Homo sapiens: one gene and its partner. The protein of the gene in region 2 interacts with the protein of the main gene of each other region in a biochemical or structural test. Each region holds a gene or a part of one and is shown on either strand. Other genes may lie near its edges.

Region 1 (3,650 bases), on a different chromosome or scaffold from region 2:
TCTCCATAGTCTGCCTTGCTGTCTTGCTTTGCTCTTTATTTTTATGGCCCTGCAGACATTTAATTTTCTGATTCTTACTTTATTGAGGTATTGAATATTGTCTCCCCCAAACCAGTAAATGACATATTGGGATGGTGGGGGGGATGGCCAGAAATTGACAGATGAGTTTGTGGGCAAGTAAATACTAAAACCTATTTCTAAGGATGAGCCATACTTGATCATAATGAATAGAATGATAAATGAAATTAAAAGATGAGGTGAAATTCAGCTTAGCTCCTTGAATATTTAGGCATCTACTATGTATTAAGTACTGTATTAGAAATTACCACATTGGTGATAGAAAATTAGCTGGCCAGCTTTATGAAATACTGTAGAAGAACTCTTTTTACTTGTATTGTGGAGCTGTTGTCTAAGAGAGTGGTTGGACGAGAAAGGAAATATAGGTATTATTTTCTCAAACATTTGTTGAGCCCTACCATGTATTCTGGAAACTGGCTAGAACTCTGCAAGATACCAAGATGAATCTAGCCAAGGTTTCTATGCTGAGGAATGTCTGTAATGTGTTATGGAGCTGGGATACTAGAGAATGGTACCTGAAAGAGGTGGTCTGTGAACGAAGCTGCCAAGAATAGTTAGTATCTTAATACTTGGAGATGAGACAGTGCTGTATTTTCCAGGCTGAGTGAAAGCATAAACACAGAGGTGGGTATTTAGGAGATGGTAAAGAGTCCACTTTGCTTGGAGAAGAGGATTGTTATAAGGGTGTTGTTGGAATTAAGGGTGGAAATGGAGATGAACAATAGTAACAATAATAGATAAAACCTAAAATAAATAAAACTTAAAAAAATTAATAGTAGTAGTGGCTTTTCTTTCCCCCCAGTGTTCTTTGGGTAGGGTTTTTTTGTTTTGTTTTGTTTTGTTTTTAAATAGAACCAGGGTCTTACTCTGTTGCCCAGGCTGGAGTGCAGTGGCGTGATTATAACTCATTGCAGTCTTTAATTCCTGGGCTCAAGTGATCTCCTGCCTTGGTCTCCCAAATTGCTAGGATTATAGGCACAAGCCATATGCCTGGCCAATGGCTCACATTTTTTGCATGCTTACTATTTGCAAGATAATGTGCTAAGTATTTCATAAGTAGCATTTTATTTAATCCTTACAACAACCTGATGAGGTAGGCACTGGTTTTTAATCCCTTTTTACATATAAAATGAAGAAGAGAGCTAACAATTGATACAGAAAGTATTTGAGTCCAGGTAGTCTAATTTCAAAGCCTGCCTTCCTAATCTCTGCATACCATATAATCAAATCATGGAAGGCTTTGAATACCCATTTCTATTCCAAGCTGGGAAGTTTGAACTTGATTGACTAGGTAGTGGGAAGTCATCAAATGTTTTTCGCCAGTGATGTGATGAAAGCTGTACGTTAGGAAAGGAAGCCTGATTGTGAAGTGTAGGATCAGCATGGGGAGAAAGGAGAGATATGGAGCTAGTTTACTCTCTTACTTCTCACTAGATTGGGTGAGTGCTCCTTTAGGACTGGGCTGGTGTCTGTCTCTGCCTTCCCCCTTCCCTCCCTTCAGCTCCAGTGTCTGCCTATTTTGATGTCTGGTATATTCATTTATTTTTTTAAATGTGATCTTTTTCTACCTCACCTTATTCTAAAAAGGACATAAAGTAGCTGCCTAGGAGCTCAATAAACATTCTGAGTTAATTAGTAAATAACTAGAGTTACATTTAGATGTATACACAAATGAAATACTATGGCTTTGATGGAAGGAGGAATGCAGCCCTAGAGTTGGTCATATGCTTTATTTGATATACAATCTCTATAAAGCAGAAGGCCAGGACCATACCTTTACTTTGTGATGAATTGTGTATTCTATGTCAGTTATAATATTCATTATCAGTTAATAAATTAACTATATCAGTTAATATTAATGAGCACCAAATTCAGAGGGCATTCATACTTTAAACAGATATTTCAGTTTGTATTTAGCATTAACCAGCTGCAACCCCTCCCCCTCCGTCACACACACAAAGGCAACAAAAGTTCCCATTAATCAGCTCCTTTACTGATATTGAATCTGTTGAATATCAGTTCCGTAGTACCCATTTATATACATTTTCTTTTGCTTTTGCTTTTGCTTTTTTGTGTGTGTGTGTGATGGAGTCTCACTCTGTTGCCCAGGCTGGAGTGCAGTGGTGAGATCTTGGCTCATTGCAACCTCCGCCTCCTGGGTTCAAGTGATTCTCCTGTCTCAACCTCCTGAGTAGCTGGGACTACAGGCAACTGCCACCACGCCCAGCTAATTTTTTTGTAGTTTTAGTAGAGATGGGGTTTGACCATATTGGTCAGGCTGGTCTCGAACTCCTGACCTTAGGTGATCCACCTGCCTCGGCCTCCCAAAGTGCTGGGATTACAGGTGTGAGCCACTGCACCCAGCTGCTCTTTTTTGTTTGTTTGTTTGTTTGTTTGTTTTTGGAGACAGCATCTCACTCCCTTGCCCAGGCTGGAGTGCAGTGGTGCAAACTTGGCTCACTGCAACCTCTGCCTCCCAGGTTCAAGTGATTCTCCTGCCTCAGCCTCCCAAATAGCTGGCTCATACCTGTAATCCCAACACTTTAGGAGGCCAAGGTGGGTGGATCACTTGAGTTCAGGAGTTTGAGACCAGCCTGGCCAACATGGTAAAACCCCATCTCTACTAAAAGTACAAAAATTAGCCAGGCGTGCTGGCATGTGCATCTAATCGCACCTACTTGAGAGGCTGAGCCTTCCATCAATTCTTGGTGCTCCTTGGCTTGTAGCTGCATCACTCCATCTTTGCCTCTGTTGTCACATGGCGTTTTCCCTGTATGTCTCTGTGTCCAAATTTCCCTTATAAGGTCACTAGTAGGTCCCACCCTACTCCAGTAGGAGTAACTTCATCTTAATTGATTACCTCTGCAGCGACTCTGTTTCCAAATCAGGTCACATTCTGAGGTACTGAGAGTTAAGACTAACATATTTGGCAGGGATGGGATTGGGGGGCACAAGTCAACACATAACAGGTAGTGTTTGAGATAACATAGAGGCATTAAATTAAAATTTATTAAAATGGAAGGGTAAGATTGCAACAAATGGGATTAAGGAGAGAGTAACCAAAGGAATGATGGACATAGGAAAATGTAAGGAATATTTAGGTAATGAAATAGTGAGAAGTCTGATTTGCTGGTTTGTTGAGGAGTTGTGGAGAAGTGAAGCCGACGTACTTTCTTGGGGCCCTGGATGCCAGGTCTAAGACATTTGAATGTTGCTGAGTGACCAGTGTGTGGGAGCAGGATGGCACTGCGGAATTTTGAAATGGTAGATAATTGATTCAAGCTTTGAGTAACTGAGTCAAGTTTTAGAGACATTCTAATATGATCAGGTGATCATGGATAAGTAAACACCCTGTAGAAAAACAGATGGTCAATGACAACACACCCAGCCTCCCTCATTTTCCTATGCCAGTAACTTTTGCCAGCACAATAAAGAAATCTCTCTTCTGTAAAACAACAAACTTTGAGGGTTTTGTTAGCCCTCTCTTCTTGGTGAGTCATCTGTGGGCATTGAGAGATACATCAGCTTTTCAGGGTCTCCATTCAAAAGCCTCCCCATGGATATTTCAGTGT
Region 2 (3,650 bases):
CTCTCACTGATGGACATTTGGGTTGTTTCCAGTTGAGCTATTACGATAGGACAGTACTGCTAGGGGTGTACATGTTATACTTGTCTTCTGGTTCATGAGAAACTCACAAGAATTTCTGTAGGGCACATACCTAGGGTTGGAATTGCTGCCTCCCATGGAATTCTATGTTCAGCATTGCTATAGGGTGCCAAACAGCTTTCCAAAGTGGTTGTCCCAAAAAACACTTCCAGCAGTGGATGAAAGTCTCCATTGTTCTCCATCCTTTTCAACACTTGATACAGGCTTCATTTCTAAAATGAAAAAGTTGCATTAGATGAGTTTCTACAGTTATAATGATTAGCTATAATAGTTGTATTATTCATGACCTAGGGACCCAATTTCTGGCTCATGTGTGTGCCTGTCTGCTGCACTCTGTACAGGTGACCACATACATGTCACAGCCTGAGACATGTCTCAGAGAGAGCTCTGTGCTGGGCCTCTAAGTACAGTTGAAGCCCTTCCTCTCTGGGCTTCCACCAGCAGTGCTTGAGGGATCCCACGGTTCTACATCCTCCCAAACACTTGGTGGTCTCCTCAGTTCAACCAAGAGCCTGGTGTCAGCAGTGAGCCCATACTATGTGCTCAATTAATACCTGGGGAGGAATATATATTTTCCTTGGGCATCAGTTTTGAGAAAAGGACATGGAAGTATAAGAACCATGAGTTTGCTGGCTAATCAAAGCACACAGGGCTGGGGCAGTGATGGATTCATGTCTGTCCTGGGCTTCTTGATCATTTAAGGGCTCCAGTGAGATGGGGTGAAGTTTAGTAGTCTCTACTGGCCATCTCTTCAGAGTCTGGCCTTGTTCTTTGGCCTTTTGACTTGTTTAACCTGAGAAGCAAGGGGTAGCTGGAGGATTGGAGTGGAGGGAACAGAGGCGATGCCATGGGGAAAGGAGCCAAATGCCTGTAGAGAATCCCTTTCCCTTTGAAGGTCGAATACCCTGCTAGGACTACTGGGGAAAAGAGGTGTTAACTACACTCACCATCCTGGTAGCCACATAAACAGCCAGATATTCACCACCCATCCACCCATGGGACAAAGGAATGTGGCTGGCTGGACAGTTGCATGGGCCACCTCAGCTCTCAACTTTGTAATTACCTATCCAGTCTGTGCCTGTCAGCTCCGGGCAGGCAGGTGCTTCTGCCCTGGGCCTCACTTTGGCTCCCAGGCCTGTGCTGGGATCAGGGACAGGGCTCTACCTTCTCCAGCCATCCCCTCACCCCAATTCCACCCAGTGTCTCTTTCTATACCAACCTTTGACCCTTGTGAGGTTACCATATTATGTAATAGCTGACAATCATAATAACCAATGGTTACTATAACTCACTATGTTCCAGGTACTATGTTCAGTGCTTTTCATGCATTTTCTCATTTATGCCTCTCAATAATCCTACGAGGCTGGTAAAATTATACCCATTTTATAGAAGAGGAAACCAAGGTTCATAGAGATTAAGAGGCTAAATTCCTTGCCCAAAGACATTGAGCTACTAAATCAGAACCAGAATTTAAATTCAGGCTTAAGTCCAGAGTGCATGTTCTCTTCCTCACTTGTGCATTGCCTTTCCTGCAGTGTCCTGGTCATTCAGCTCAGTCTTCCCTCCTCCCCTTCCTGTCTAGGAGGGCTGGAAAAAACGCAGCAGGTGGTACGAGGGTGAATGGGGCAGTTCCAATCTGGCCAGGGAGATGCTGGAAAACACCTTCGGGGCAGAGTTCTTTGTTCCAAACGGCTCTGAATTTCCGGACTTCTGCCAGGGGCAGGAAGTGACTTCTGCCCAGCCTCTTTGGCAAGCACACCCATATCTTGGGTGCCATGATGTTAAGAAGTGGGGGAGGGGCTGCCTCAGGTAAAATTCCATTATAATGAACTCCATTTGAGGTCTGACCGGCTTTGTTGAAACCACGTGCACAGCCTGGGAAACTGGAAATGGAGTGGAACTAATTCGAGGTTGGGTGTCTTTTAGCAAAGCCCCCCGAAGGTTTGGAGCCTAGAAGGAGAAGGAGAAAAGAGTCAGACCCACCCCCAGGTCCTCCTGAATGCCAAGCTCCTGCGTGGTCCTGGGCAGGGCTTGTGGGGAGAGCTCTGTGCGTAACTCCACCTGTCAGTGCTGTCATCGTCCATTCCCCCCACTCTACTCCGAGCCCCGAGAACAGATCTGAATCCTGTCTCTGAAGTGCCCCTGCTCCACACAATAACTAACATGTCACAGATATACTCACTAGATGGTTTTGTCTGTAGACCAGGTGCCTGAGCAAGAAAGGAGGGTTGAAGGGCAATTGCTTTGTGTCATTAAATCATCTTCAAAAACTGGGCTGCAACTCAGATGAATTCTCCTTAGTCATTGCAGTAATTGTGCGCAATAATAAGCACTAACGTTTACTGAGCAGGTACTACGTGCCAGGCACTATGCTGAGCACTTGACGTGATTATCTCATGGACTCCTCACAGACTATGCAGTAGGTGGTGTTATTTTTCTCATTTCACAGGTGAGGAAGCAGAAGCTTAGAGAGTGCATTTCATTGGTTCTTGTTGCACAGCTAGTGGTAGGGAGAATTCAGGGTTGGGCACACCCAGGCCAGCTGCCTCCAGAGCCTGCACTTCTAACCGTGAGCTCTGCTGTCAGTGTGTGCTGGTCAGGGGGCCAGGGCCAGGTGGGTCATGAGTGAGGCTGGAGGGATGCAGACCCGGTGAGATGGACTGGAGAGCACACGCTGGTTGATGGGAGCAGCCCCTCTCGGCCCAGCAGGCTTCCGGCAGGAGCTTCAGCCTGGTGTGGCCAGATTATCTGACTTTTTCATAGAAAGCTGGACATTCAGATTTTTTTTCAAAAATGTAAACTCTTGATTTCTAAAACATTGACAGCCAATTTAAAAAAAATGAAATGTGTAATCACTGTTGGTGTTGGGGAAGGACGGGTGGCAAACAGCAAACATCACAGTCAGGTCTGCCCTGCAGGCTCCACTGCATCCTCTGGTAGTTTTTTTTTAACAGGTAACTGTTATAGAGTGGGATAGGAAAAACCCTGTTCCTGTAGAATTCCTTACTAACGTACTAGAAGGTACCCCTCCCAGAATGTGATAATAGCTTTATAATACAGAGTGTTTCTTCCTTGTGAGTTAGAAAGAAAGCTTTCAGAGTAAGATATTCCAAGAATACCTTCCCCTCCTTTCCTTTCTCCCCTCCTCCTTCTCTCCCTCCCATACTCTGTCTTCTCAGGAAGGTATTTCCTCATAGGTATTAGAAGAAAAGTTGTGTGAGAAAAATCAAAAGGAAACTAACAGAGGATAGGGTCTTAAGGCACAAAAAAAAGGAGAAAGTTTGGGGATGGGCTTGGTAGACAACGAATGAATGGATCATGCTCCATGCAATCGTTCAAGGTGTTTTTTCACAGCCTTCCCCTTTTTACCTGAATTTATTCCTCCTCCTCTCCTATTCTTAAATGCCTGGAAAAATAATAGTAATGCAATAGCTAGTATTTTTATAGAGTGTAATTTTAGAGTGTAACAATTTTTATAACACATTTGAAATATTTATCTCAGCTGACACAACAGTCTTATAGAATCTCCTTTTGGAGGCTTGGTAAAGTCGCAGTGTTTTCTCCTTCTTCCT

What was found.
Region 1: the proteins of VDR (region 2) and NCOA6 form a complex in vitro, tested with the Homo sapiens proteins (one study listed by BioGRID).

What each region holds. Positions count from the first base shown.
Region 1 is NC_000020.11:34,815,633-34,819,282, reverse strand, and holds part of NCOA6 (nuclear receptor coactivator 6), read left to right. Parts: intron 1-3,650. UniProt on the Homo sapiens protein: Nuclear receptor coactivator that directly binds nuclear receptors and stimulates the transcriptional activities in a hormone-dependent fashion. Coactivates expression in an agonist- and AF2-dependent manner.
Region 2 is NC_000012.12:47,894,985-47,898,634, reverse strand, and holds part of VDR (vitamin D3 receptor), read left to right. Parts: intron 1-3,650.